Homo sapiens: one gene and its partners. The protein of the gene in region 3 interacts with the protein of the main gene of each other region in a biochemical or structural test. Each region holds a gene or a part of one and is shown on either strand. Other genes may lie near its edges. The genes, in order: SOS1, PXN, NCK1, SYNJ1, DNM1, FASLG and MAP4K1.

The links.
Region 1: the proteins of NCK1 (region 3) and SOS1 form a complex in vitro, tested with the Homo sapiens proteins (2 studies listed by BioGRID).
Region 2: the proteins of NCK1 (region 3) and PXN form a complex in vitro, tested with the Homo sapiens proteins (one study listed by BioGRID).
Region 4: the proteins of NCK1 (region 3) and SYNJ1 interact in a test that uses a peptide from one of them, tested with the Homo sapiens proteins (one study listed by IntAct).
Region 5: the proteins of NCK1 (region 3) and DNM1 form a complex in vitro, tested with the Homo sapiens proteins (one study listed by BioGRID).
Region 6: the proteins of NCK1 (region 3) and FASLG form a complex in vitro, tested with the Homo sapiens proteins (2 studies listed by BioGRID and IntAct, with this or other methods).
Region 7: the proteins of NCK1 (region 3) and MAP4K1 form a complex in vitro, tested with the Homo sapiens proteins (2 studies listed by BioGRID, with this or other methods).

What each region holds. Positions count from the first base shown.
Region 1 is NC_000002.12:39,018,883-39,023,551, forward strand, and holds part of SOS1 (son of sevenless homolog 1), read right to left. Parts: intron 4,344-4,669; coding exon 3,688-4,343; intron 1-3,687.
Region 2 is NC_000012.12:120,255,299-120,259,967, forward strand, and holds part of PXN (paxillin), read right to left. Parts: intron 1-4,669. UniProt on the Homo sapiens protein: Cytoskeletal protein involved in actin-membrane attachment at sites of cell adhesion to the extracellular matrix (focal adhesion). Recruits other proteins such as TRIM15 to focal adhesion.
Region 3 is NC_000003.12:136,920,685-136,925,353, forward strand, and holds part of NCK1 (SH2/SH3 adapter protein NCK1), read left to right. Parts: intron 1-4,669. UniProt on the Homo sapiens protein: Adapter protein which associates with tyrosine-phosphorylated growth factor receptors, such as KDR and PDGFRB, or their cellular substrates. Maintains low levels of EIF2S1 phosphorylation by promoting its dephosphorylation by PP1.
Region 4 is NC_000021.9:32,643,969-32,648,637, reverse strand, and holds part of SYNJ1 (synaptojanin-1), read left to right. Parts: intron 1-2,035; coding exon 2,036-2,245; intron 2,246-2,848; coding exon 2,849-2,992; intron 2,993-3,631; coding exon 3,632-3,670; intron 3,671-4,669. UniProt on the Homo sapiens protein: Phosphatase that acts on various phosphoinositides, including phosphatidylinositol 4-phosphate, phosphatidylinositol (4,5)-bisphosphate and phosphatidylinositol (3,4,5)-trisphosphate. Has a role in clathrin-mediated endocytosis.
Region 5 is NC_000009.12:128,213,379-128,216,878, reverse strand, and holds part of DNM1 (dynamin-1), read right to left. Parts: intron 1-3,500. UniProt on the Homo sapiens protein: Catalyzes the hydrolysis of GTP and utilizes this energy to mediate vesicle scission and participates in many forms of endocytosis, such as clathrin-mediated endocytosis or synaptic vesicle endocytosis as well as rapid endocytosis (RE).
Region 6 is NC_000001.11:172,663,992-172,667,797, reverse strand, and holds the end of FASLG (tumor necrosis factor ligand superfamily member 6), read right to left. Parts: intron 3,465-3,806; coding exon 3,408-3,464; intron 2,177-3,407; coding exon 1,782-2,176; 3' UTR 922-1,781; downstream 1-921. UniProt on the Homo sapiens protein: Cytokine that binds to TNFRSF6/FAS, a receptor that transduces the apoptotic signal into cells. Involved in cytotoxic T-cell-mediated apoptosis, natural killer cell-mediated apoptosis and in T-cell development.
Region 7 is NC_000019.10:38,603,285-38,607,953, forward strand, and holds part of MAP4K1 (mitogen-activated protein kinase kinase kinase kinase 1), read right to left. Parts: intron 4,628-4,669; coding exon 4,580-4,627; intron 3,732-4,579; coding exon of another isoform or gene 3,612-3,731; intron 2,932-3,611; coding exon 2,889-2,931; intron 2,447-2,888; coding exon 2,284-2,446; intron 2,208-2,283; coding exon 2,125-2,207; intron 1-2,124. UniProt on the Homo sapiens protein: Serine/threonine-protein kinase, which plays a role in the response to environmental stress. Appears to act upstream of the JUN N-terminal pathway.

The DNA of each region.
Region 1 (4,669 bases), on a different chromosome or scaffold from region 3:
AGGAAACAGACGCTATGCTGACGCACAAACACTTTTTTAAAAAATCAGAGAGTATAAAAATAGAACAGCGCTGCCCTATAGATGAAAAATTGTTCAAAAGATTTAAATAAGTTAAAACACCGAAACTGAGCTTATATAGGACACAAACTCAAAATAAATCTAATTCAGGTTTTTGAGGCTTTTCCCTATGAAGGTATAAAATAGCAGTAAATACTTTAAAGAAAACGATCTTCTGGCTTAAGTTTTTTCAATACCATCTTCTGGAAAAGAGAAATTCCCAGGCAAGGGAAACACCTTTTCCCTCACTTCAATATGCAAAGCTTTTATTTCCCATAAAATGTCAATTCTGAATTATTATCCTTACTTCAGGGTCATCTCATTTTTCTAAAATAGACTACCAAACTGGACACAGCACCACCTACCATTTATCTACTCGTGTTGTTTTAGGTCTCATTAACTTGTACTTTGTTGCCTACAACAACTCTGTAACAGACGTGAAATTCCTACTCTCAACTTTTTATTTGTGCATATTGCTTTGTGCTTTCTTACTTAGGATAAGGAAATAGTCTCTTCATACCATTGCCAGATTTAGAATGATCCATCCAATTGGATAATTTTTCCCCTAGTTTTTGGGACAAACCCCAAAGTTCTGATATAGTCAGCAAATTATGATACATCCAGAAACACCGAATCTGAGAGACAAGCTATAAATTAGATTCCACCTAAGACCCTGTTGCAATCTTTTAAGCAAGTTAACCACTTTCTAATTCACCTAAATTTAAATTTTTCTTTCCACAAAGCTTTCCCTTTAGTGAGCAAACTACATCAATAGACTAATAATTGGGTTTTGTAAAAAAATAAAAATAATAATAATGACCAGTATCTATACATAAAAAATCTATGCATTCCAATGGAAGTGTATCTATAGTCAGAGCTTACCTATATCCTATTTCAAGAAAAAAAAATTACTGACAATATCTTCATAGTACGCACGTTTGCCCAGAAATGAACAAGCCATTTATATTATTGGCAGTTCAAACCAAGGAAGTAATTTATTTATTTTTTTTGAGCTCACATCTGTACCAGATCCTTTTACTTAATTATTAACACATATAATTAAAAAATTACAACATATTCTATTCATGAAAACAATCACCTTATATGAGTCAATGTAACATGGTAGAAAATATACTCTATTTAGAGTCAAGAAACCTAATTCTTGACTTGTTCTGGAATTAACTCGTAATAGAACTTCTGGGAAATCATATAATCTTCAGGGGCCTTGGGATTTGTCTACAAAGTGAAGGCTTGGGCATCTCTTCTAGCATTAGAGATCTATAGCTCCATTTTGTACATTACTGTTAAAATATTTGAGGGATAAAGTTGGCTGACACCACAGTGAAGTCTGAATAAAGTAAGGTTAAACCAGTTTCTCTTCTGTTTTTATGACAATGTCTAACCAAACTATAATAATCTAAAAGATGTCTGTAAGTCGTGTCTTATAGTATTCATTAAATTTTCTCATGTATTATATCCAATGTCTTTTATTACAATTCTATATAATAAAATAAAAATGTGTAAGTTAAATGTTAGCTTTGTTTCAGTGTAAGCCACAACCTGTACTGCATGTTCTCCAATAAACATACCTACTAACCAAATCACAAATCCCTTTTCTCTTTGGGGAGGCTGAAGAAAGATGAGAGGAGAAGAGCAGACCAGTAGTTCTTAAAAACAAATGGTAACTTGATCTGTTACCATTGTAGTGAGGCCTTAAAAGTCCATTTCAGTTTTACAAGTTCACAGATGGTCTATTAAAAACCATTCTATGTTGCCAGTAATAACTTCAGTAACAGACCTTACAGAATAGCCCAAATAAGCTAACAGTTAACACTAATGTGTGTGTACTGTAAACCACAACTCACGAAAGCTGCTTGTAGACTCCAGTTTCACCAGTAATATATTTATGACATAAATTAAAATATTCAGTTAAGCTTCAAAAGAAGACAGAAAAGAAAAATATCAAAAAACTTAGCCACAACACTGGCCTTTTATTTCTCAAAAAATTATTGGAAGGAATTTTTTAAAAACATTTTTTTTAAGTAAAATAATCTCATCAACTTAAATTTTCAATACACTTAACTTTGGCAAAGTTCTATAAATCTTGAAATTTAAGTGTTTTATATTCATTATAAGTAAAAGCACTCAAAATATTACTCTATACCAAAGCTAAAAATTGATATAGAAAAGAAGTATCAGACAGAAATAACTAATAAAACATCATTACAAAAGTACCATGTCCACGGACTTTACCTAACATTGTACACATTAAGGAAAGAAGACTTTCAGGACTACAAAACAAGTATCAGCTTGTTCCAGTTAATTTTGCTTTAAAGTGTCCTCATTTAAAAAAATAAATAAAAGGGACAGTTCCCCAGACAATAGTTGTAACCATTCTTCAGCTGCTTATTAATAATCATAAATTAACTTTGTGAAATATAGCAATTTAGAGAAAACTTCTATCACTCAATCAAGTCTTACAGAAACAATTAAAAATTTTGTAATTTGAAAATGTTTTCCTGCCCAAGTATCACTGACTTGTGACAGTAAACACTAGTAGTAAGTCTTCTTACAATGCTCTACAGGAAAAAAAAAAAAAAAAAAAAAATTAAAACTTCTTTCTTACAAACACAGAGAAAAATCTAAAGATTAATTTTACTCCAAATGAGTCTAGGAACCCCAAACAAAAGTACTTAGGATGAAATGATAAAGTTTAGAATGCTCATGTTATAAAAATTCTATGAGTCCTCTAAGGGGACTTAAAAACCAGGAAAATGTGGCAAGAAGGGCAATTTGAACTTTTATAGCCTTAAAAATCTCTTAAGCAGAAAAGAAGTATTTTGCAATCACAAATTTTGGGTAACTGAATAAAAAACATTTTTATAGTTGTAGTCTAGATCATAAAGAACATAGAAAAGGTTGGTGAAGCACAACTAAATCGGCAGGTCATACTACCGAAAAATTGTACCTCTCAAAAAACAGCTTTATATGGAAAAAAATGACAATAACCTATTTGTTTTTCATGTAAAATCTAGGCAGCCTATTTACATTTCCTATGATTTTTTAAATTTTTGGGTCAGTAAAATAAATACACTGACTATAGACATTTCTAGGTGAAAAATTATAATAAAACTGGAATCCTTGGCTTCCAGGATTGCAACATTTATTATTAAATAATCAGGTTTAGGAGTGGAAACTGAGAGAAAGCAATGCCGTGTATATTTGTACTACCAGCACAATTTTGTTATATTAAAATTTTTATTTATAATCTCAGAAATGGAAAAAGAAGAAAGAAAAAAAAGATAAAGGAGTAAAAAACTTTTTAGATCCCAATAATGATGATTTACTACTAACTTTAGTCTTGTTTCTGTCACTTTCTAACTGGATAAATTTAGCCAAGTGACCTCATTTTCTCATCTATAACTGATGGTAAGGTTAAAAAAAAGTATTTAAGTGTAGTAGAAAAAGTAAAACATTCCAAAGAAATATAAAGTGGGGTATTTTTAGTCAAAGAAAAGAGGTCTTTGGTTGTTAGTTTCTTTTCTATTTTAGGCACAATAAACCCATGCAGGAAAGAAAATCAGTTTGAAGCAGGAAAACAAAAGTGACAGGCAACTGCATAATTCTTACCTGCGTACATATGGTACGTAAGCCTCTCTATAAGTTTAATAACAGTTCCTGCTTTGATAATTGGAATTCCAGCCTTGGGCTGCATGTTCTCTTCAAATATAATATTCTCTTCAGAGTCAGGCTCTGCAAATCTATAAACATCAGCACTAGGCAGCCTCATCTGCTCCTCTTTCTCTTCCTGTAGCATTGTTACATCAAGCATCCTTTCCAGTGTACTCCGGTACTGTAAAGATATCAATGCTGCCATCCAATTGTTTTTCTCTTCAGCTGACTTGGCAGAAAATATAACACTATTTTCATCTTTTAAAATTATTTCAAAAGCATGCTTGTATTCATTGGTGTCATCTTTATCATTAATTTGTACCTTTCGCATAAAAAACTTTTCTTTAAGACGATATTCTGCATTGCTAGCACCAGGAAGTCTTGGCTGCCCATGATTTGATTTACAGCAAATCATTAAGCCATCAAAGAGAAATATGTGTCTCTCATGTTTGGCTCCTACACGTGTAAGAGTTCCTTCCATTATAAATTCATTACAACACTGTCCAATGTCTTTTCCCTCCCAACCATCAATATTCTTCTGAATCTCGTTCATCTTCTTGATTGCTAGTTGTTTCCCCTTCATTTGCTGACTATAAAACCGACATGCAGATTCACTGGAATAAAGAAAAAGACATTATTAGTACATAGATGACAGAAAACCTAGAGCTCATGTAAGTAAGGGAAAGTGTAAAAGTAGATTTTTACAAGTCTCACTGAGAAGGTATTCACTAATTCCCCAAATAGATTAGAATTACAAAATTACACAATTTTGAAAATTAAAGCAACCTAGAAATTTTTTTCAGTGTTCTAAAAAGCACAATGATTGCTGACAAAATTCTCCTTAAATGTAACTACAAAATGATTATTTCTATCTTGGCTACTAAATATTTAGAATGACAACTAATAAAAAGTAGCCCAATACAGTAAAAAAAAGTAATCT
Region 2 (4,669 bases), on a different chromosome or scaffold from region 3:
AAGCGGAGCTTAAGGAAGGGAGAAAAAAATATGCAGCTAAAGGGTGAGACAGGTGTCTCAGCAAAAGAGCAAACGTGGAAGAATGGGTCAGACTGTGTTAAAATTTAAAAAGGAACAGGCCGGGCGCGGTGGCTCACACCTGTAATCCCAGCACTGGGAGACCGAGGCAGGCAGATCACAAGGTCAAGAGTTCAAGACCAGCCTGGCCACTATGGTGAAACCCCATCTCTACTAAAACCACAAAAATTAGCTGGGCATGGTGGCGGGCGCCTGTAGTCCCAGCTACTCAGGAGGCTGAGGCAGAAGAATCACTTGAACCCGGGAGGCGGAGGTTGCAGTGAGCCAAGATCATGCCACTGCACTCCAGCCTGGGTGACAGAGAAAGACTCTGTCTCAAAAAAGATAATAATAAATTTAAAAATAAATAAAATAAAAAGGAGCAAAGTAAAAAAGTTAGTAAGTGCAGGTCAGGCACAATGGCTCACATCTGTAATTCCAACACTTTGGGAGGCCGAGGTGGGCGGATTACCTGAGCTCAGGAGTTCGAGACCAGCCTGGCCAACATGGCAAACGAAACCCCATCTCTACCAAAAATACAAAATTAGCCAGGTATGGTGGTGTGTGCCTGTAATCTCAGCTACTGCGGACTGCGGGGGGTTGGGGGGGGTGGGGCGGAGGCAGGAGGATCGCTTGACCCTGGGAGACAGAGGTTGCAGTGAGCCAAGATCATGCCACTGTACTCCATTCTGGGCGGCAGAGCAAGACTCTCTAAAAAACAAAACAAAAAACTGAAGTTAGTAAAAGCAGAAAAGTAAAAAGAGGGAAACAGGCAAGACACATGGTGGCTCACACTTATAATACCAGCACTTTGGAAAGCCAAGGCAGAAGGATTGCTTGAGGCCAGGAGTTCGAGACCAGCCTGAGAAACATAATGAGACTCCGGCTGTATAAAAAATAAAAAATTGGCCAGGCATGGTGGCACGTGCCTGTAGTCCCAGCTGCTCAGGAGGCTGAGGGCAGGAGGATCGCTTGAGTTGGAGGTTACAGTGAGCTGTGATCAGATCACTGTACTTCATCCTGGGCAAGAGAACAAGACCCTGTGAGAAAAGAGAAAGAAGAGAAGAGAAGGAGAGGAGAAAAACGGAACCAGAAGAAAAAGGAGAGCCAGGTGGACCTGCAGATGGGGACATCGGGGCCACATGGGGCCACAGCCATCTACACTGACAGAAGATGATGACCATGAGGTATAAAAGGGGGTAGAAAGATGGGGACGTGGGGGGTGGAGTAAAGCGTGAGCAAATAGAGGCCATCCTTGAGGATCTGTCTACTATGTGCTAAGCACCTCACTCAGTCTCCCAACAATGTGGAAGGCAGGCATTACACCCATTTCATAGCCTGCTTTCAATAGGGTTTTTTTTTGTTGTTGTTGTTGTTTTTGAGACGGAATCTCGCTCTGTCACCCAGGCTGGAGTGCAGTGGCCTGATCTTGGCTCACCGCAACCTCCGCCTCCCAGGTTCAAGGAATTCTCCTGCCTCAGCCTCCCGAGTAGCTGGGATTACAAGCATGCGCCACCACGCCCAGCTAATTTTGTATTTTAGTAGAGATGGGGTTTCTCCATGTTGGTCAAGCTGGTCTCGAACTCCCAACTTCAGGCCTCAGGTGTTCCACCTGCCTCAGCCTCCCAAGGCTGGGATTACAGGCATGAGCCACCGCGCCTGGCCTCAGTAGGGTTTTTATGTTTTAGAAGAGGCCAAAGTCTCCAAGGCTCATTCAAAACAATACACACAGACCGGGATCCAGAAGAGAATCGGCCTGAAGCTCCCTGGAGCTCCCTGGAGGGTTCCACCCCCCTTGCTCCAGCTCACCCAGAGTTCTACGATTCAAAACAGCTGGAAATGTGTGCCCTGCTCTCCCCAACAAGAAAACAGAACAGAACATGGCTGTTTCTGCCAAGCGAATTCTGAATAAGCTGCATTCCATTTCATTAAAACAATTACCTGAGCTCCAGCCAAGAATTACATAAAGCTTCCTCCCAGCATCACCCCCTCCCCCATAAAACACACATCATGCTGCTTTCAAATAGGCAGAGTGAAGCTCTGAGCCCTCGCTAGAAGACCTCATAGTCCTCGCCAAGTGGCCAGCCTCGGCATCTCTGCACGCTGACATAGATGACATGAGGCTGAAAGAAGACCTTGGCATGAAGCCCTCCCCTCATGAGAGCCTGCTGGCTGCCCGAAATGTTTCTAGTAGGCACCAGGGCCCTCACCTCTGCCTCAGAGCCAAGAGGGCCACTGGTGCCAGAATCCAGCTATTTCCCCAAAACAGACTGGAGGTCCAAGAGGGCCAGCTTTGAGTCAGCACAAACTAGACAGGAGGGACCAAGGGAGTGGGGATTCCAGGAGGGGGAGCCTGAAGGCTGGAAAACTGGATGGTCAGACTTGAGCTATAAGCAAAAGCCTGGGGACACTCAGCCATCACTGCCCACAGGTTAATGGTGTTCCACTGGCCACAGATAAGGGGTTCATGATGTGAGGCAAAAGACATCTCCTCCCCGCCCACAGGCCTCAAGCTGCCCAGAGACCGTTCCCTGAATTATGTAAAGCCTTGCTGTGGCTGGGCACCGTGGCTCACACCTGTAATCCCAGCACTTTGGGAGGCCAAGGCGGGCGGATCACCTGAGGTCAGGAGTTCGAGACCAGGCTGGCCAACATGGTGAAACCCCATCTCTACTAAAATTACAAAAATTAGTCAGGCGTGATGACGCACGCCCATAATCCTAGCTACTGCGGAGGCTGAGGCACAAGAATCACTTGAACCTGGGAGGCAGAGGTTGCAGTGAGCCAAGATCACACCATTGCACTCCAGCCTGGGTGACAGAGTAAGACTCCGTCTCAAAAAAAAAAAAAAAAGTCTTGCTCTGCATCCCATCAGCCTAGACAACCCATCTCAAACTCCAACCAGAGTTCGGCATCTCACATGCTTCAACCCTGGTCTGATTAATGTCATCATGCTCAAATAACTCATGAGGCTGCCTCCACACCTATGGACACACACTGTCTCTGGGCCTGTCTTTTTTCTGCACAGGTCACAGCACTGTGCTCCCCATTTCCCAGATGATAGTCAGCAGTCACTGTCACCTGAGGCCCCCCCAGCTACTGTCTCTGCTCACCCAGTCTTCCCACCACCTGCTCAATCACAGGAGACCAGCAGTCATTCAGGCCAACCATAGGCAGGCGCAGGCCAGCACCTAGGCCCAACAACTCCAAGCCCATCATGGAAAAGCAGGGTTTCCTTACTTTTCTCCAACTTTTCATTATAAAAATGTCTAAGCACACAGAGAAGTTGAGAGGCCCGGGTACTCTCACTTAGATTGAATGGCTGTCATTGTTTTACCACTTTGTGTAAACGCATGGCCCTTGTGCTCTCTGCCCTTTATGTGTATATCCTTTTTTTCATTATATCATTTAAAACTAAGTTGAGCTGGGTGCAGTGGCTCACACCTGTAATCTCAGCACTTTGGGAGGCCGAGGTGGGTGGATCACCTGAGGTCGGGAGTTTGAGACCAGCCTGACCAGCCTGACCAACATGGAGAAACCTGGTTTCTACTAAAAATAAAAAAATTAGCCAGGCGTGGTGGTGCATGCCTGTAATCCCAGCTACTCGGGAGACTGAGGCAGCAGAATCGCTTGAACCCAGGAGGCAGAGGTTGTAGTGAGCTGAGATGGTGCCACTGCACTCCAGCCTGGGCAACAAGAGCAAAACTCTGCCTCAAAACAAACAAACAAAAAAAAACAAATAAAACTAAGTTGAGGCCAGGTGGGGTAGCTCACACCTGTAATCCCAGCACTTTGGGAGGCTGAGGCAGGTGGATCACCTGAGGTCAGGAGTTGAAGACCAGCCTAAACAATATGGTGAAACCCCACCTCTACTAAAAATACAAAAATTAGCCGGGTGTGGTGGCATGCACCCATAGTCCCAGCTACTCAGGAGGCTGAGACAGGAGAATTGCTTAAGCCCAGGAGGCGGAGGTTGCAGTGAGCCAAGATCGCGCTGCTGCACTCCAGCCTGGGTGACAGGGCAAGACTCTGCCTCAAAAATAAAAAATGAAAAAATAAAAATAAGTTGCAAGACATCATGACACTTCACTCCTAAATACTTTAGCATGCACCTAACAATAACAATATTCTCCCATAAAACCACAATACCACAATCACACAAGAAATAAGCATTAAAAGTCCGTCTTTAAGGGAAGATTTGGCCACTGGGGTTCCACTGGGCCTGGCCAACCGCATGTTCTGTCTACCACTGGCCCAGCATCCAAGGCCTCCCTGGAGAGGCCAGCCCTGAGCACCACTGGTTAGGCAATCGGTTAGTTAGTTGGAAGACTTATCAGGGTATGAATGTACACTCAAGGCCAGATATGAGACTCCCAACAAGACCCAGACTGCAAAAGGCAGAGTGGACCCCGTGAGGCTGTCGATGGAGTCTCAGGGCCCATCCCAGGTGAGGAGGGCACCCTGAAGCCATTTCCATGACTTGCTTTGTGAACATTTCTGAGAAAACTCAGCTTCCTGATTCTCTCTTCCTCTCCCCCTCCCATAGGACATCCTTCATTCTCCACCATAAAGTTTTCAACAACTCCCTCCTCTGGATACGGGAAAGACAAGG
Region 3 (4,669 bases):
GAAAGAAGCCATTATGTGACTACAAACGTAAGAGCAATAATCTTGCTAAATTATGAGCAATTAGATATAAACCACCAATTATGAAAACGTGTAACATAATGAATTTATTGTCATAATTAACACAGCAAACATGTAAGTACATTAATTGATCTAAGTCTTATATACTATATGGGAATTAAACATAAATGGCCTTATAGTTGATTGTAATCATATTTTTAAATTTCTAAAAAATTGTGGTAAAAACAAATGTTATGAACTGAATTTTGTCCCTTCAAAAATTCACACATTGAAGTCCTAACCCCCAGTAGTTCATAATGTGACTATATTTGGATATAGTGTCTTTAAAGAGGTAACTGAGGTAAAATGAGGTCGTTAAGATGGACCTTAATCCCTTATGACTCCTCTTCCTGGTTCACCTGGCTAGAAATATTGGCATTAAGTACATTCACATTGTTGTACAACCATCTATTTCCAGAATAATCTTCATCTTGCAAAACTTAAACTCTGTACCCATTAAACAGTAACTCCCCTGTATATAGATAGCCAAACTACCAGTCATGTATGAGAGAACAAAATCACTTTCAGATATGCATTCTAAAAAATTTAATTCCAATATATTTTTAACTCAGGAAACAACTAGAGGACGTGCTCCAGCAAAATGAAGGGTAAAGCAAGAAAAAGTAAGACATAGGATCTAGGAAGCGGAGGAACTGTGGGCAGTAGTTCCAATATTGGTTTCATTTTCTAAACTTTTGCTGTGGTATTTGCATCTTTGCTTTATGCAGGGATGTGTGGGGCTTGAGTGGTGTTTATATTGTACTTCATTTCTTAGTGCCTTTGTGATGCTTCTTTGGATATTCTATGCATGTCCAATTTGGGAGAGCCCAGTACTTGTGTTGGTCCATAACTAGAATTATAGATGTCGAAGATAAACTGGACACTAGTTAAAATGGTAAGGACAGATTTTATTCAGTAACTATTGCAGTAGGGAAGAGTGTCCAGTGTGAACTCAACTCACTTTTGCCAAAACAAAAGGGGAAGAGACTTTTTTAAAGGTTGAGTATGCTAAGGGAAAGACACTGCTAAGGGAAAGAAAGATGGTTTTTTTGTTTTGTTTTGAGACGGAGTCTGTCTCTGTCACCAGGCTGGAGTGCAGTGGCGTGATCTCAGCTCACTGCAGTCTCCGCCTCCCAGACTCAAGCAATTCCCCTGCCTCAGTCTCCTGAGTAGCTGGGACTACAGGCACGCACCACCACGCCCAGCTAATTTTATTGTATTTTAGTAGAGACGGGGTTTCACCATGTTGGCCAGGATGGTCTTAGTTTCCTGACCTCGTGATCTGCCTGCCTCGGCCTCCCAAAGTGCTGGGATTACAGGCGTGAGCCACCGCGCCCGGCCACTGAGTGGTTTTTAAGGGCAATAGGTGGTCCATGTGAGTAGGCCATCTGGGTTTGTTATTGGCATTTATCTGGAAGAGAAACAAACTTATTATTTATGACAGGAGGTGGTGGTACAAATTAGGCCCACCAATGTTTGGCCCTTACCCTCTCGCCAGGGACTGGGAACAAAAGTGAAAGTTATCTTTTTGATTGTTTGCATTCCAAAGAGGTAGTTCTCAGGTCCTTGGGAAGATAGTTCTTGATGGTAGAAGATTTAAGTCACAAAGGGACAGAGAAAGGATTTATAATTTCAAGCTTTCTAAGGTAACTGCTCTAAATGGGGGTTCAGGTGACCATCTGCCTATCACCAGGTTTTGGCTGGAACAAACGGTAAATTCTGGCCATGTGGAGCCTTTTCAGGTAAGGAACTTGATGGAGTTGGAGTCATTATTCTAGGATATGGGGAAAAGATATGAACAAGCACTTTACACAGAAAAACAAATGTAAATGTCCCTTAAATATGGGAAAAGAAATCACTGTAATAAGAGAAATACAAATTACAACTCTGAAATACTATTTCTCCCCTATTAGATTGGCAAAAATCCAAAAGATTGACAACATAGTTTGTTGGCAAGGCTGTGGGGAAATAATCACTGATATATTGTTAGGAGTTTTTAAAAATAGTTTATGAATACAGAATTTAGCAGTATCTCACAAAATTATACAAACTTTAGCTGTAACTCAGCATTCTTCTATGATTCTAACCCAAAGGTACACTAACAGAAAATCAAAATGACACATGTATGAGGCTGTTCATTGCAGCACTATTTAATCCCAGAAAATTACAAACAACCCATTGACCATCAGTAAGGTCTAGTTGAAGAAAGTGCTACTTACATAATGATGACGCACTCTGCAATTGTTAGAAGTAGTAGATGTATTAGTAAAGGAAGTCTCATGTGCTGCTGTGGAATGATCTTAAGGATAGATTGTTAAACTGAAAATGAAAAGATTCAGGCAATATAGTCTATGCCTATGTGTATGTGTGTGTGTGTGTGCGCGCCTGTGTGCATGTGTGTGTGTATGTTTTGTTGTGGGGGTAGATAAAAATTAGAATTTTCAATTTTCTTATATATTTTTCTTGAATACTTTCCTTAAATTATTTAAAAAAAAATAGAAACATAAACCAAAACAAATAAATAGCTGTCCAGGCCGGGCGCGGTGGCTCACGCCTGTAATCCCAGCACTTTGGGAGGCCGAGGCAGGCGGATCACGAGGTCAGGAGATCGAAACCATCCTGGCTAACACAGTGAAACCCCGTCTCCACTAAAAATACAAAAAAATTAGCCGGGCATGGTGGCGGGCACCTGTAGTCCCGGCTACTCGGAGGCTGAGGCAGGAGAATGCCATGAACCTGGGAGGCGGAGGTTGCAGTGAGCCAGGGTCGCTCCACTGCACTCCAGCCTGGGTGACAGTGCAGTGCGAGACTCCGTCTCAAATAAATAAATAAATAAATAAATAAATAAATAAATGGCTGTCCAGTGGGGTGGATGGGAGAGGGGAGAGAAAAGAGAAGGTATGGAAGAAGACCTCTCTAAATGTTTTAAATATGTTTGATATTTAAGCATATTTAATGTTTAAACATTCATATAAACAATATTAAACATAATGTTCAAACATGTTTGATATTTAAACATCTACCTTGCTTGATAGTTTAGCTTTTAGAACCATCCAAATGTTTTACATAATTATGAAACAATTACATTTTAAAAAGGGAAAATAAAGTGATCTTCAAAAAATGAAAACAAGTGAGCCTAACTCTACGTCCAGTTGGTGTCATAACCACACAGAAGTATATATTCTACCTTTTCTGTAAGGTTTTATGTTTTAGGGTAATAGAACAATAAGCAAAATTTTCCTTTGAGAATAATCACAGTTTCTGAAAGCAGGTAGAGCTAGCACATCATCATTATTGAAATAGTTGATCTAGGCAGTGATCATCAGTGGCAGGTAAAACCATTGGGTAGAGGTTTGATGGGGGAACTTTATAATAATGGATAAATCAGTTCAGTGCTACAAATCTACCATTCAGTCTTAACATCACAGAAAATGGTTCAGGCAGACATAATGTGCCTCCTAATAAATGGCAATAACAAGTACACAAGAATACTTAACGAATTATTCTTGCAACAATGACAAAACAACCTAGAAAAAGTAAAGCCTCTAGAAATAATTACCAGTTTATAGGAGATAGGGGGGATAGAGGAACACCATGAAAATATACACTAGCCAAATTCACGATGTGGGAAATGCTACAGGACAAGTGAAGCCAGCTTCTTAAATAAATGACATAGAGTGGGGAAAGAGAACAGTGTCAGAGACTTAAAACATGTTAGCTTAAGTGCAATATATCGACTTAGTTTGGATCCCAGTTCACACCAACTGTAAGAATGTTTAAAAAAATACACTTAGCAAAAATTGAATATTAGCATTAGATGAAATAAGTGTTGCAGGAGTTCTTAATAAAGGAACACCTTTTCAAAATGAGCTTTTGAAAATATACTGATAATTTAATTTTAGTATAATTGACTTGTTTGCAATCTTATATATTTTTATGCATCAGAAACATTGTGAGTAGAGGTTCTATGTTTCACCACACTGCCATTAGGCAGGAGGAGGGGAGGTCCATGGCTTAACCCATTTGTGCCTAGTGTTCCATTATTGGAACGCTAAGCTTGTGAGAGTTATTTATATCATGCTCAAGGTCGTCACCAAGGTCTGATTTTTCACACAAGAAATTGCAACCTCCGGCATATATGGGTTAAAAAAGGGAAAAGGTCAGGAGCCCTTGATTTGTTCATTTTTGAGGGGTATGGGTTTTTAATCTGTTAGTGCTTAATGAAATCATGGGATTCCAGTTCCCCCACCAAAAATTAGGGGGATAGCTGAACCACAAGGCATAATATTGATAAAATTGGGTGATAGGTATAGGATTCATTATACTATTCTCTTCTGTAAATGTTGAAAAGTGCCATAATTATAAAACTTAAAAGCATTATATAAATTTTTAGTTATTATACCAGTAATGTAGTAGAATGCTATTTTTGTACATTCTGGGGAGGACTAGATAATATTGGTAATACTTTTGTCACCCTGATAGGTAAAGTGTGGTATTTCAGTTTAGTTTTCATTTCTTTAATTATAAAGATATTCAGGATCTTTTGAATACTTTTTGACTATTTGTGTTTTCTCTTTCAGTTTTTATTTTAATTAAACTTTTTATTTTGAGA
Region 4 (4,669 bases), on a different chromosome or scaffold from region 3:
ACAGAGTTTAAATATAGACAGAAGAAGGCTGCCCGTGAAAAGAAAATGAGAAGAAACAATGGCAATTGTTTCTAGAAATGTCAAAGAGCCAAGAGAAATTCATGGCTTAAAAATCAAGGAAAGAAAGTGGAGCATGGAAGGGGAGTAGTCAGTGGTGTCTTGTAACACAGAAAGATGAGAAGAAATGAGGACAGAAATGTGTCCTTCTGATTTAATAACAGGAAGGGAAGCTGTTGTTGACATTTCATGAGAGTGATCTCAGAAGTGATGAAGTCAGATAGTGGTAAATTGATATGGATGGAAGGTGAAGAAGTGGAGAAAAGTGTCTGTAGACAACTCTTTAAGAAAGTTTGGGGGGAAAGAGAAGAGGGCAATTGCTCTAGGAAGATTGGAGGTCCTAGGGTGGTGGTTTTGGATGGGACAGGCTTGAGAATGCACAGTGCTAATGGAAAAGTAGAGGAGAAAGGGCTGATGGTTTGGGGGAAGGGCAAGGCAGAATAGTAGAGCAGTGTCACTGAGAAAATTAGGCTGGGTGGGGCCCATTTGTTCCATCCTCAGATACCCAAGTGACAACCATGTAATGAGACTCCAGCTTGGGGGCAGGCTGTTGAAGTAGGGGTTCCCATCTTAAGACTTCCCTCTTCTCTGTGAAGTGTTGAAGTGATCTGCAGGAGTGGGACAGCTCACAGTTTCAGGAGGGTTAAGGAGTTTTGCAGTAAAGCTCCTGAAGAGCAAAGGGTGAGGGGAAGAGCAAACCAGCAAATCATGGAATTGCCAGGCACTTTAGGCCAGAAGAGACTGAAAAGCATAATTTCAAATGTGACTGCAGTTGTCAGGACTGGGTGGTTTTCTTTAGCAGAGGCAGTCAGCAATCCAAGTGTTATCACAGAAAGATTAAACAGGGGAATCAGTGCAGGGATGGGGTTATGTCAAGCACGTGCAATGGAAGAAGAGTGAAGTAGGGTAATGTTTGAGATGAAGAACCATAGAATCTGAAGGTAGGTACAGAAGAAAGCAGAATCAGATGGAGGTAAAAGTTAGAGGGATCAAACCCTGGCTTCTGAAGAAATCAAAAGAGAAGGAGTAGCCAAGGGAGAGAACTGAAAAGCTGGGAGGCCAAAGTCAGAGTGAAGCTTTTGAGTTTATTATTTCAGAAGAGTGCAGTTCTGAGGGGTGAGGGTTAGGAGTGAAGGCGAATGTCCATAAGGATAGGACCAAGGCATTTTGCTATTGAACGAGTTGTCCACATGGACTTTGATGCCACGCAGAAAGATGGTGCGGGACCTGACTTACAGTCTTGCTCTCTGCTTAGTCCTCAGTGAGTGGGTTCAGGAAATGGAAGAATGGACGTTGGAGATGACTGTAGCAAGTGGGGGTAGAGGATGTTACATAAATTCCTGATGGCATAGCCTCAGAGCAGTAGGACTTTTTGTTCAGGGTTGGAAGACTAATGTTCTGGAATGGCAGTTAGGTTGCAAGGGTTACCTTGTGCCCACTTTCCTACCCAGAAGTAAGTGGAGATGAGGAGACCCTGGGGGAGAACCAGTGTTTACTTAATTAAAGCAAAGCGGGTCTTTGTGGGGTGAGGGTTGCAGGGAGGAGCCTTCTGGGGGAAGACTGTGTGGCTCCTGAGAGCTTGTTGACTCTGAGGCTGGACCTGGGTTAGGCAAGGGAGTGGGGCAGTTCCACAGAGCACAGTGGACAGGTTTGGAAGGAGAGCAGGAAACTTGAGTTGGCTTGCACTGGAGAAGCTGCTCTGGGGCATATTGAAAGCCCATTGGGTCACCCCAGCTCCAAGTGGTTGGTCACCTGACATCTTATTGCTCAGAGACAATAGATACCTTTACATCTTCTGAAACAAGCATTTCTACTAATTGTGGTTTTATACATGCCTTCATGCTTAATCCATGTGTGTTTGCAATGACATAATGTTCATATTTGTTTTGTGTATTTTAACTTTTTAAAACCTAAGGTGAAAAAAATCTCTGAGCAAGTTAAAATGGAGTTATCTCTGATCAAGCCTGCTTTTCCTTAGGTGATGTTGATGACTATAGTGCTGAAGTGGAGGAACTTCTTCCTCAGCATCTCCAGCCATCTTCAAGTTCCGGCCTTGGTACTTCCCCCAGCTCTTCACCCCGAACTAGTCCCTGCCAGTCACCTACAATATCAGAGGGTCCTGTACCTTCCCTTCCCATCAGACCAAGCCGAGCACCGTCAAGAACTCCTGGGCCTCCCAGTGCACAGAGTATGCATTTTATTTGAAAGTTTTGTATGGCTTCCTGTGGCCAATGTGCTTGATGTTGGAGAGTCATCGTTTAAGTTTCATACCTAGGTGATAAAGTGCACCCTGTTTTCTCCGGTACAGAATAGGAAAACTTGTAGATGATAAGCTCTCAATGGAAAGGAAACTTGCTATAACTGTCACTAGATGACAATTGTTCTTAATCTTTTTTCTATGTGGTTAGGTTTGTCTATGTCTTATAACTGATGATTTTCTATGGTATGAACCCGTTAACTATTTGAGCTTTTTCTTCTCTCTACTGGCCAGACTACAAAATGGCTTAACTCAAACAATACTTTGTGCATATCAATAGGGCCACTTAGTAAATTAGCTTTCAGCACCTGAGGCCTAGGTAAGAAGTCAGCACAGAGGTAGCATTATTGCTGCCATGGTACCAAAGGGCAGTTTAATAGTAGACTGCTTTTGTTATTCATACTGAAAATACATGCCCTTTCTTTACACCATTGTGCACATTTTATAGAACATTACACATATATATGAAGGACTGTTCCCTTCTGTCAACAGCTACTTAGAAGCTGATCTTCTTACCTCCTGTGCGCTTTTTAGGTTCTCCTATTGACGCGCAGCCAGCAACGCCGCTGCCGCAGAAAGACCCCGCCCAGCCCTTGGAGCCCAAGCGGCCGCCGCCGCCCCGCCCGGTCGCCCCTCCCACACGCCCGGCTCCCCCACAGAGACCTCCTCCGCCTTCAGGTGACAACCTTTTATTTCCATTTCTGCTAGATGTAAAATTCTTCACTCTATTTTAAAATGTTTTGCATGTTTTCCAATCTCTAGCTTCTGGATTTTACAGTTTTTTCTATCATTATTGCTATTTCTTAGCTTTTCTCTAAAGAACATGGTAGGCGCAACAGACAAGGTAGAGTGTTTGCAGAGTAGATTCCTCTAAGGTGTTTTCACAGCTGCCTTTAGCTGCCTTCTCACCAGCCAGCCAGAGAGGTTTATTTTGTTTTTGCTAATTTGATCTAGTTAGGCATGTAAACTGTTCTTAGGTAAAATTAGGTTTAATTTTTTTCAAAATCCTCATTTCTGGATGATTTATAAGCATAAAATAATTAAAATGTACTAATTTCTGTAAAAGTATAATAAAACTGGAGAGCATACGTATTAATGTACAATTGTATGTATTTGTTTAATGTTCTTTTAAATTAAATATAGTGCTGTTACTTCAATTATAAGCATATGCATTGAATAATAGTTTTTGTAGTACGTAGATAATATGTAATTCCTGCATGATACTTGATGTCATGGATACTATAGCAATCTTTGACATTTCACTTCTGTATTTAATGTCATTTCCTTTCTGCTGCCTATTTTCTTATGAACTATAAGGGGCTAGGAGTCCTGCACCCACTAGAAAGGAATTTGGAGGTAACCATTTACATTTGTTAGCATGTGTGAATCGTGGTTCATTAATGTTTTACACCTGAAAGACATTTTAGATTTGTTTGATAAAAGTCAAAATGAATGACATTCTAGTTTAAAACTAATCCACAAATAAAACTAATAAAGGCTTTCATTTCCCAGGTAGGCTGGGATTGTTCATCAGGCCTAATTTTTTTTTTAATAAATGTGGTCGATTCATTTACAAAGATTTAATACCCAAAAGTTATATTAATTTTAAAAGTCATTCAGGTACAGTAAATACAGAACATTTCCCAAGTATCTGATTAGTGATACATTTATTTTCTAGTGGAAAAGCTTTTGGATTAGCAAAGAACTGTATGATTTTCTTTTCCTTTCTTCATAAGGAAATTTTTATTCACAAAGGGTCACTTTTTGTTTGAAGTATAGTTTATTTGGTTTACATGAAAACTCACAGAGCTCAGTTGGAGTTATACATTTGACAAGTTTATTTAATCTAAATCTCAAGAAAAGATGAGATGAGTTTTCACAATTCCTCAGAAGAACTTTTACAAATCCAGTGTTACTAAGGCTCACTGTGCATGTGTAGCCTGGTCTGTTTCTATTGTAGCTTGCCTAGTGACATGGCTGAGCAATTCAGGTCTTACTACAGACTGACTTTGCCTGTGTGTAGATCTTAATGACTGCGTGTGATAAGAATAGCTAAATTATTTCAGCATTACAGCTTCTGCCGAATACAGCTAAGTGATCATTTCTCCATTGACCTACAGAAAACATTTAATTTTTCCCTTTTCAAGCTCCTGCTTTTATAGAAAACATTTAATTTTTCCCTTTTCAAGCTCCTGCTTTTATTTAAATTTCCATGATAATTTTTGCTTATCTTCTGCTTTAATTAGGAAAACATCCTGTAGAAAATAAATTTAAAATGAATCTGTCAAAAGTTAGGCAAGCCAGTGGATTACAGTGAAATCTGTCTTAATTTTAAAAATTGCTCCCCTTCATAAT
Region 5 (3,500 bases), on a different chromosome or scaffold from region 3:
ACAGCCAGCGCCTTATTCATGGAGAGGCCCAGGGAGGGAAAAAGATACATTCAAGCTCTACAGAGCCAGAGGTGGAACCCAGGTCTCTTGCTCCCAGCCCAGAGCCTGACCCAGACTCACAAGTCTTCTTGCACCCCAGGGTCAGGAGCTAAGGGTCTTAGGTACAACAGACTAGACCCAGAGCTCCTAGGTTCAAAGCCCCCTCTTGAAGCCTCTCCACTGCCTCACGTCTGGGGAAGTGGACGCTGCTGGGGAGGAGTCAGGAATTATACTGGAGAAGGAGAAGGATGGTAAGCCCTGTGTATATTCATCATTTCTGCGCACCAGGCAAATGCTTTTCATTCTTGCCAGACAGTGAGCAGGGCAGCCTCTTTCTGTCTGCCACTGTATCCCAGTGCCCAGGACAGGGCTTAGCACACAAGGGGCACTCAATAAATTCTGATTGAATCTCCAAGTCCTCGAATCTGTGCTCTGATATAGAGATTATCATTTTACAGAGGAAGCAGCTGAGGCTCAGAGAGGTGAAGTGACTCACCCAAGGTCACACAGCAGAGTGGGGATTCAAAGCTGAGTGTCTGTTGGACCCTCAGCCTGGAAACTTCCTCATTCAATGGTGCTGTCTCAAACCCAAGAAGCCAGACTTGGCTTTTTATGTAATTCAATTAAATTCAGTCTGTGCCGGGCCCTGTGCCGGGCTCTGGGGATGGGAGATGATGAGTCAGACAGTTCCCACCCTGAGGAACTCACAGTGTGGTGGGAGAGACAGACAAGTAAACAGATAATGCAATGCAGCGTGGTATGTGCTAGAACAGAGGTGTGCCAGGCGGCACAGAGGGAGGGGGTTTGCTGGGGGGTGGGAGGACTTCCGGTCTCAATCTCTCCCATCCTTTACTCAAAGACTCCTTTGGGGGCGTGACTTCCAGTTTTGGGAGTCCCCCAGGGCTGTGGAGATAGAACAGCTGTTCTCATAGAAGCTGGGGTGGGTGTGGGGGCCGGGGGTCCACCCTCTTCTCCACCAGCTCCTCACCAGCAACACCATGGCAACAGTAGTTGCCATGGAAACTGCAGGAGGGGCTGGAAAGGATGGGACTCCCCACAAAGAGTCCCCCACACAGAGACGTGGACTTTCCCTGGAGTTCTTCCCTGAGAGGCCTCTCCTTGAGCAGACAGGCCCACGCAGCCCTGGTGAGCCTGAGGGGTGGAGGTCTCCAAGGTGCCACATAGCGGGTGTGGGGAGCCCAGGGCCCAGCTGGCAAGAATGCTGGGTGGTCAGGGTCTGGGCCAGCTGCCTGCTGCCTCCCCAGGGCTACTTAAAGGGCAAGTAGCTTCTGGGAAGCAGAGACTAGAGGCAGGGCCATGTCTGGGGGTCAACCCCTCCCAGAGCCAAGATCTCCTGGTGCCCAGATGGGGAGGTGGCCCATCTCTGTCATGGCCCAGGTTCTCAAAGTGAGGCCCTCACGCGGCCTGCATCAGAATGCCTTGGGTAGTTTGTCCAGACGCATGCTCCTCAGGCATGCTGGGCTAGAATCTCAAGAGGGCTTCATGGGGAGGCAGAATCTGGGTTTTAAATGGATCCTCAGGTGGTTTCCACACTCCGTGTTAAGTTTAAGGACCATCTGCCCCATGCTGAGGAGCCAGTGCCAGGCTGGCTCCTTCATCGAATCCTACATTGGCCTTTCCTTGGCCTGGTGCCTGGTGCCAGGACCCGAGAGGTCTGCTTCCCAGTCTCACGTCTGGACTGACAGTGGGGAGGACCAGCAGGTCCCCAGGTCCGGACAATGAGCTCCTCACTCACTTCCGGGTTCCTGCCTGGCACAGGCCCCGCACGTAGTAGGCGTGCAGGCAACACGAGAAGGAATGTGCATGACTCAGCAGCTCCCTAGCTCTTCCCTTTCACCTGGACACACTGTCCCACTTTAGCCCTCTGTTTAAGGGTCCCCTAGGTGGCCCTCCTTCTCCCCAGTGGGGATCCAGACTAGATCCAGCCTCCAGCTCCTGGTTAGGCTAAGGGAGGACAGAACAGGTGCCCAGAGAAAAGTATCAGGCCCACCAGCCTCGGAGGCCGCGTGCTGTGCCCAGCGTGGGAGGGGCGGCTGCTGGCATGCCAGTTCTCCCCACTCATTTGGAGCAGATGGTGGGTTCCCAGGGAGGCTGTGCCTGGCCATCTGCAGAGGCACCTTCAAACGTGAAACATGAGGGGACGAAACAAACACCTCTCAGGAACCCCAAATGCCACACTCCCTGTCTGAACTGGAGTTGTCACCGTGAGAGGGGTCTGGAGAAACTGAACCCAAGGGCTGATGTGACCCCTACCCCTACCCCTACTCTAGGACCTGAGACTTGGGATCAGAGCTCTGGGATCCTGGTTCCCAGGCCCTGCTGAATGCAAATGACCCCAGGAAGTAACGTGCTTAACTGGGCGTGCACCCAGTGCCGGTCATTCTTCTATGCCTCCTCTTTTTTGGGCTCTGATGTCAGATGGACCCCACATTGAATGTCTGAGCTGTCATGTAGGAGCTGTGTGGCTGTGCACAAATGACCATACCTCTCTGAGCCTCAGTTTCCACATCAGTAAAATGGGTTGCTGTGAGGCTTATACAGACTGATGGCTGAACCAATCGTGGCTACTATGATTATAAATAACGATAGCTTGCTGGGCATGCTGAGACCACAGGCTGGACTCCCACAGCCTCGTCACCAGAAGAGGCAGCGGGGAGAGAGTTGGACGGTGGGTTTCCTGGAGGATGGCAGTGAGCTTGGGGGTGAGGGCAGGATATTTCCAGCCAGATCTTGACCCTGGAGGTGGAAGGCAAGGGGGGTGGGCAGGGGCGTGCTCTGAAGCAGGGAGTTGGGGTGCCTGCAAGGGAGTGGGTAGGCCAAGAAATACAGTTGGGAGGAGGTGAGGCTACCCCCAGGCAACAAGTCGCTCTCTGTTCCTGCTGCCCCAGGGGACCCTAGGCAGCCCCGTCACAGCTCATGAATTTCAAGCTGAGGTCTGAACACTGCAGGGCAGTTCTGGCCTTGGCTTTCCTTGATGTTCTGATGGCCCCGGGAGCAGGGACTAGGCTAGACTTGTTTGTCACAATATCCCAGCACCTAGCCCTGGGTCTGGCATGTAGCAGACTCTCAGGACACCCGCACTGACCAAAAGAGGGAATGGAAGATGAGCTCTACCATCGGCTTCATTGTATAGGGTAGAAACTGAGGCACAAAAGGGAAGAGTCTTGCCCAAGATCATGGTGCAAGTTGGTGACAAGGTAGGGCTCCTGAGTCCGGGTAGGTGCTCTCTCCACAGCAATCTTTCTCCCTATTAAGCAGAGCCTATTACCTTCCCTTATTTCTTATCTTCTCATCCTTCCTACTTTCTTTCCCACCCTCCCTCCCTCCCTTCCATCAATCCAAGGGTTGATGACTTTGTATTTTCAAAAGGGAAATAGATCTCTTTTGCCTCTAATTTTTAAAATCATGTGTTCTCCATTTTAAAAGATTCAGAAAATGAC
Region 6 (3,806 bases), on a different chromosome or scaffold from region 3:
AAAATAGGATTTTTGCAAGGGGAATACATTGGAGGAAGAGAGTATTTTGGAGTTGAGAGTCTTTCCAAGGTGCTGGTTGTCATGACAGATGATGACATTTATGCTGGACATAGAGAGAAGTGAAGACGTGGAAGGAGCTGATGTGTATATAAGAAAATAATAAAGTTTATTAATTAGAAGTCTCAATATTTTCAAAAATATTTTAGAAAAGAAAATGTTGGACCAATTCCGCTGGAATAATAGAAGATGATGTTGTGAAAATAAGACACCTAAAATCAAATTCCAAAGGAGTTACTATAATTTTTAATGATAACAAAGTCTAGGGAGAGCCCATGATAGTGAGTGGTTGAAGAAAATAGGAAAAGGCCGTTGTGAATGACAAGCATGAGAATACAAGAAACCAGGTGCTTAGATGGATCCCACAGATCAGTGGCCTCTGGAGAATGAAGTGGCTCTAATAGAGTGGCTTAGTAGTGGCAGACACTATTTTTTGATGTTCTATGTGTCTGATACTTTCAGCTCTTTTTTTGTTCAAGGAAGGTCAAGTGACCTAACCAGTGCTTACATAGGCAGTACGTGGAAGAACAAAGATTCAAATCTAAGTTTTTTAGTCCAAAATATGTGCCCTTTCCACTGTGCCATGGTTCTGCCTTCAGGAAAATATAATTTCTCATCAAATCTATGGAAAGTTGGCTAAGCTTAACATTGGTCATAATATTGGTAATGGAAACTCTGGGAGGTGAAGAGGAAAGAGAATATATAGAGAGAAGGAAGGCCTAGCAAAGGCAGAAAGATTTGATTCATAGTTCTTCTCACTCCAGTAAATTATTCTTAAAAGTGGTCTGATATCATAATGAATGAAGAAATCAAGGAGGAAAGAAATAATAAGCAAAAAATTCAAATATTAGTAAATTCTAAAAATTATTTGTATCCTAACATATACTTTTTATTACATGTTTTCATTTCACAAAAATGCACATCTACATAAATATTTATTATATTATAGGAAAACATCATTAGTAGCTGACAATCAATGATTTTTAAGCACTATTAGAGTTGATTGTCAGGAAGCATTCAAAATCTTGACCAAATGCAACCCATATTTTCCTAATATGTACTTCACAATATCTACATTCTCTCTTTAGTCATACACACACACACACACACACACACACACACACCCCTACAATTGCACTGGAAATACACATGCTGTGTTAGGAATGAAATGAGTCCCCAAAACATCTCTCTTGCTTATCTGTTAGTTTCACCGATGGCTCAGGATATGCATTTAGAAGTGAAGATGCTGCCAGTGGGGCATTGGCCTCTTTCAGCCTCTTTAGCTTATTATGCAAGCCTCTAGTCTTCCTTTTCCATCCCTTAAATCCTCAGGTCACAACCATGTATCTGAAAGACAGTCCCCCTTGAGGTAGCAAGGCCCACCTTGAGAGGTGAGTTAAAAGGTGTCCTTTTCAATCTGCCTAAATACTCTCAGGCACTAAGATGAGTGTAGAACACCTGGTAGCTGCTTTTTCATGCTTCTCCCTCTTCACATGGCAGCCCAGAGTTCTATGTTCTTCCGTCATATTCCTCCATTTGTCTGGCTCATAAACATTAGGTGAGTTGAGGAGCTACAGACATTTTGAACCCTGTGGTCTCAAGGTCCACTTGGTTCATGTCTTCTTACTTGACCTCAAATGCATGTAAGAAGACCCTCACTGAATACAACATTCTCGGTGCCTGTAACAAAGAATCATAATGGAAAGAATCCCAAAGTGCTTCTCTTAGAGCTTATATAAGCCGAAAAACGTCTGAGATTCCTCAAAATTGACCAGAGAGAGCTCAGATACGTTGACATATAAATGATCAGCACTGGTAAGATTGAACACTGCCCCCAGGTAGCTGCTGCGGGCCCACATCTGCCCAGTAGTGCAGTAGCTCATCATCTTCCCCTCCATCATCACCAGATCCTGGGGATACTTAGAGTTCCTCATGTAGACCTTGTGGCTCAGGGGCAGGTTGTTGCAAGATTGACCCCGGAAGTATACTTTGGAATATACAAAGTACAGCCCAGTTTCATTGATCACAAGGCCACCCTTCTTATACTTCACTCCAGAAAGCAGGACAATTCCATAGGTGTCTTCCCATTCCAGAGGCATGGACCTTGAGTTGGACTTGCCTGAAATAAATCCAAAAGGAGCTTTCAACAAGGAATAGTCATGCATCCAACAAACTAAGTTTCTAAGGCAAAACTGTGGGCCCTTCCTTCAACAAATGTTTCACCCAGAATGACAGCTGGTATAGAACTGGCTGAGGGGTCAGAACTTGATCCATCACAGAATTTCCTCAACAACGTTGTCCTATTTTGTCATCCACACAATTGGAACAATAGTATATACCCGTAATCCATTGCAGTAAGAAATTATTGAGAAAATATTTGCTCTCTGGAACAAAGATTTTACTATCTTCAGAACTAGCACCAAATCTGCTAGGCTTTGAAGTCCTTTCCTGAAGGAAAAAGCCAAATCCAAGGAACTCTAAAGTTCTAAAGTTGGGAAGGATCTTAGGGACCATCTGGTCCATCTTCTCACCTGCAGTAAGAATTATTCAGCCCCTCAATTTGGGGTACAGTTCCCTTTTCTTTGTATCCCCACAACATCATGAACATAACCTAAATCTCTGAAGTACTGAAATTATCATAAGTGCCTGTCTTTCCCTATTAGATGTCAAGCTCCCTGGGGGCAAGAGCCATGTGCTACTCATCTTCACATCCCCAAATTGGCACACAGCAGGTATTCAGTAAGTGTCTGCTGATGTGACCGGATCATTCTATAATTTCTGCCTAAATAATTCCAGGGACAATAGCCTACCACTTTCTGTGATATTTATTCCATTATTTATGTAGTTTATAATGGGAGTGCCCATACCATATCATTTCACTCCACTTTACAGGCACATATTGAAACTCTACAAGTGCCAGGATTGAGTCTCCCTTCTCACTCCTATTTATACTCTTGGACAAAGCAGAGTGAAGCTCTTCCAGAAAACCAAGAAAGCACTGACTAAAATAAGTCCTCATTCCTCACCTTCTCATCTCTCACCTCTTGGATCTGTGCCCCCAATCCCCCAAGGGACTTTGGAATGACTGAAAAGAATGAGCTTCTTATGGGCAGGGGTCATGTCATAATCAGCTCCAGGTCTCCAATTTAGAAGAGGGCCTTGCCCAGAGAATAGGGGATCAAAGTGTGTTCATAAGACTGACTCGACAAGAAAAGTGTTAGTATTATTGGGTTCAAATACTGTCTCCAGGAAGTAACAACTCTCTAGAGCCTGGTAATGGAAACCAGGCAGCCATTTTGCCTTTTGCCAAAAGCTTTCCCAAATCTCACCTGTACCTTCCAGATACAGACCTGTTAAATGGGCCACTTTCCTCAGCTCCTTTTTTTCAGGGGGTGGACTGGGGTGGCCTGTATCATAGAGAGAGGAAAAATATATGTTAAAATGAAATAGCAACTATTATTTTGGTGGGAATTTAAATCCAATCATTTTAAAAAAAAGATTTTAAAACCGTAAATGGCAACAGTCTAACATATACTAATCATGTAGGTCTGAACTGCAGGATTCATAGTAGTCTATATTTCAGAAACAAAGAGGTAAAAAAATAAACCAAATTAAGATTGACATATGTATAAATTATAATGTTACAATAAAACATAATTAATATAAACATTTATTCATAAAGAGCTGTCATGTCAGTTATTGCATTTAGAACTCACCACAACCCTTTGAGGTAGGTATTATTGTCCCAC
Region 7 (4,669 bases), on a different chromosome or scaffold from region 3:
TACACACACACATACATGTATACATATATACACATGTACATATATACGCATATACATATATACACATATACATATATACACACATATACATATATACACATGTACATATATATGCATATACATATATATACACGTATACATATATACACACATATACATGTATATGTGTGTGTATATATGTATATGTATATATGTATGATTAATTATGCTATGCATTTCATCTTTGAATCATTTCCAGTGCTGGAGGTATAAATTATACATACTTTTAGCCGGTAGCCAACCAGGCACGGCTGTAATCCCACCAGTTTGGGAGGCCGAGGTGGGAGGATCACTTAAGCCCAGGAGTTCAGGACCAGCTTGGGCAACATAGTGAGACCCTGCCTCTATAAAACATTTTTTTAAAAATTAGCCAAGCTGGGCCGGGCGCGGTGGCTCACGCCTGTAATGCCAGCACTTTGGGAGGCCGAGGCTGGCAGATAACTTGAGGTCAGGAGTTTGAGACCAGCCTGGCCAACATGGCAAAACTCCGTCTCTACTAAAAATACAAAAATTAGCTGGGCGTGGTGGTGGGCGCCTGTAGTCATGGCTACTTAGGAGGCTGAGGCAGGAGGATCACTTAGACTGGGGAGGCAGAGGTTGCAGTGAGCCAAGATAGCACCACTGCACTCCAGCCTGGGCGACAGAGTGAGACTCCATCTCAGAAAAAAAAAAAAAAAATTAGCCAAGCGCTACTAGGGAGGGTGAGGTGCATGGATTGCTTGAGTCTCCGAGGTCAAGGCTGCAGTGAGCCATGATCGCGCCACTGCACTCCAGCAGCCTGGGCGACAGAGCGAGATACTATCTCAAAAAAAAAAAAAAAAAAAAAAAAAGACTTTAGAGAGTTCTAATTCATTTTATGCATTTGTTGGCAAATTTGATGCCACAAAGGTGCATTATCACAACACTGACTACGTGTGTAGGCATTATGCATGTACGTAAAAACACTGAAACTTCCTGAATAAAGAGATGTTCTTTTTGTACATCTCCATTTATGAGAGGTAAAATTTCTTGAGATCTTGGCTCTTTGGGCAACTGCATATGTGGTAGTGACTCATGGAGGTTTTGATGGATCTTGTCAAAAGACTCTAACTTCTGGACTCAAGCAATCCTCCCACCTCAGCTTCCCAAGTAGCTGGGACCATAGGTGTGTGCCACCACGCCCAGCTAATTTTTTAAATTTTTAGTAGCTGGGCGCGGTGGCTCATGACTGTAATCCCAGCACTTTGGGAGGCCGAGGCGGGCAGATCACAAGGTCAGGAGATCGAGACCATCCTGGCTAACACGGTGAAACCCCGTCTCTACTAAAAATACAAAAAATTAGCCGGGCCTGGTGGCGGGCACCTGTAGTCCCAGCTACTCGGGAGGCTGAGGCAGGAGAATGGTGTGAACCTGGGAGGCGGAGCTTGCAGTGAGCCGAGATCGCGCCACTGCACTCCAGCCTGGGTGACACAGTGAGACTCTGTCTCAAAAAAAAAAAAGCATGCCAGACGCGGTGGCTCATGCCTGTAATCCCAGCACTTTGGGAGGCCGAGGCAGGTGGATCACCTGAGGTCAGGAGTTCAAGACGAGCCTAACCAACATGGTGAAACCCCACCTCTACTAAAAATACAAAATTAGCCGGGCATGGTGCTGCATTGCCTGTAATCTCAGCTACTCCGGAGGCTGAGGCAGGAGAATCACTTGAACTAGGGAGGCGGAGGTTGTAGTGAGCTAAGATCGCGCCACTGTACTCTAGCCTGGGCAACAAGCAAAACTCCGTCTTTAAAAAAAAAAAAAAAAAAGCAGAAACAACAATCCTGCCTCAGCCTGCCTCCTCAAAGGTATTTATATGACCTTGGGTAAGCCACTTACCCTCTCTGTGCTTCAATTTCCCCATTTGTGAAATGGGGGATAACATCTCTGTGATATCTTCTTCACTCTGTGAAGCTTTATGCCATGTAATGATAGGAGATAAGTGTAGGGCACAGAGAAGCGCTCAACAAATGTCACCTGTTGTTACTGTCAGTCCTGCCACCCCCTCCCCACCCCACCAGGCATCCCCAGCCCCGTCCAGAGGTGTAAGTCCTCAGCAGAGCTGAACCTCACCTTTCTCTTCATCTTTTCCTTCTTGGGGGGCAGAAGTGGGGGCTTGTCAAGCTCCCGGGAGGGTGGGTTCCAGAGTGAGGGTTCTGAGAGGGGTTAGGAGAAAATCAGCCCCCAAGAACCCCCAACCCTCCCGCCCTCCACCCTAGCCTGTCCCATTACCTGAATGGGCGGTGAGGTGGGGGCTGCTGGTGGATGGGGGAGGCCCAGGACGGGGGCTGTTTGGTGGGGGCCCACTGGCACACCGGACCAGCACCCCCGGGCTCAGCTGCCCATCATCCCCCATGCTCCCAGGACCCTCGTCTGATGGAGAACGGAACTTGGGCTTTGGAGACGGGAATGGAGCGTGGGGAAATACATCAGATGATCTCAGAGAGGGCACCCTTTTGCAACTCAAGTCCCTGCCTCCACCAGAACTAACAGCTGTGGCTCTGACCCACCCCCCCGACAACATCTTGTGCCCCCTCCAGCCTTCCCCTGACATCCCCAGCCTGGACATCAACACACTTCAGAAACTAATGGGTTAATGCTGGATATATAGCAGGGGCTTCCTAGGACCAGCTACTGACCAGTGTCTAAGAGGCTAAATATTTTGAATCCGACCCTGAGGTTGAGGGATGCCACTTCCAGATCCCAATGTAGCCATCATCCTGGTCTCCCCAATTCCCTGCCCTGGAGAGCCCAGTATCCCAGCATCTAAGGACCTGGCCTCCTGGCCCCCAGTGGCCCTGAGGCCCCAGCCTCCCAGCTCTGGCCCAGGGCCTTACCTTGGGGGGAAGTGGAGGAGGTGTGTCCTCTGCAGGGGTGGGGCTGAAACACAAAGATGGGTTAAATAGCTGGGGGGCTGGGGAACAAGGACTCGGGGAAGATGGCATGGTTCTGGGCTGGAGGCCCGGGACTGGGGTCTGAGGTGAGGAGGATTAAGGGATGACTGGTTCTGCCTGGAGCAGAGGATTAAAGGATTAATAGCCAGGCTGGACATAGTGGCTCATGCCTGTAATCGCAGTGCTTTGGGAGGCCAGGGCAGGATGGCTTGAGCCCAGGAATTCGAGACTAGCCTGGGCAGCATAGCAAGACCTTGTCTCCAGAAAAAAATTAAAAATTAGCCAGGCGTGGCAGGTGCGCCTGTGACCGCAGCTACTCAGGAGGCTGAGGTGGGAGGATTGCTTGAGCCTGGGAGGTTGAGGCTGCAGTAAGCCATCATTGCACTCCTGCACTTAGCCTTGGTGCCAAAACAAATCATGAGTTTGAGACCAGCCTGGACAACATGGCAAGACCCCATCCTACAAAAAAATGATTAGCCTGTTTCCAAAAAAAAGACTAATAACAGTAACAGCAACTCTTGGAGGTGGAGTGCTGACAGTGCACCACGGCTTTGCACCTTTACACCACCTAGTAACACAGGTGACATCAGCGCCGTGGCCCTGCTCTCCCTGTGCTGGCGCCACACACAGGCTGTCGCACGTGATGGGTGAAGTGAGTGCGCGCACCTGGATGGAGCCTGACTCGGCCTGTGGGCTGGGGAGTATGGGGGCCTGGGCTGACTGTTGGGTCTGGATCTGGGGCTCAGTATCTGGTCTTTGGGAGATTTCCAGGTGCCAAGGTTCAGCCTGAGGGCGGGCAAAAAGATAGGAAAAGCTGAGGGCTGGGGCTGAAGGCTGGAGGGTGGGTCTGGGGTGAGAGTGACATTCGGGAGGAGTTTGAGACTGGGATGTGGCTGAGGGTGCAGGGTCATGGAGGATAGGTGGGGTCAAGTCAGAGATTGGAGCAGCAGCACATTCTAGAAGGAACTGGGGTCAGCTCTGGGGTGGAGAGCAGGTGGGGGGCTGACGCTGAGGGTCAAGTCAAAAGATTGTATAAGAAGATGGAAGGAGGCCAAGTGCAGTGGCTCACACCTGTAATCGCAGCACTTTGGGAGGCTGAGATGGGCGGATCATGAGGTCAGGAGTTTGAAACCAGCCTGGCCAACATGGTGAAACCCCATCTCTACTAAAAATACAAAAAATTAGCTGGGCATGGTGGCAGGTGCCTGTAATCCCAGCTACTCAGGAGGCTGAGACAGGAGAATCGCTTGAACCCGGGGAGCCGAGGTTGTAGTGAGCTGAGACTACGTCACTGCACTCCAGCCTGGGCCACAGAGTGAGACTCCATCTCAAAAAAAAAAAAAAAAAAAAAGAAGAAGGTGGAAGGAAAGAAGGAAAGTGGGAGCTGGAGCTGGGATCAGGTTGGGGGTCAGGGGTTGGAGGTGAAGGGTTAAGGGAGGTGGGGTTAGGGAACAGGGCCTAGGTAGCTGGGCAGAGGGGCTGCATTGAGGGTCTAATCAGGGCTCAGGGCTCGGGGCTAGAAGAAAGGCAGGGGTGCAGCGGGGTCAGGAGTGGAGGAAAGGCCACATCAGGGGATTGTAGGAAGGTGGGGGCTGAGGTGGGGCCTGTGGAGCTGCAGGCAGGGCCTCACTTACATGTCCACGTCGTCATAGTCATCGTCAGACGACTCTGACAGTTGCTTCCTGAAGGGTGACAGGTATGAGCCTTGGGGGCCTTGTCCACAT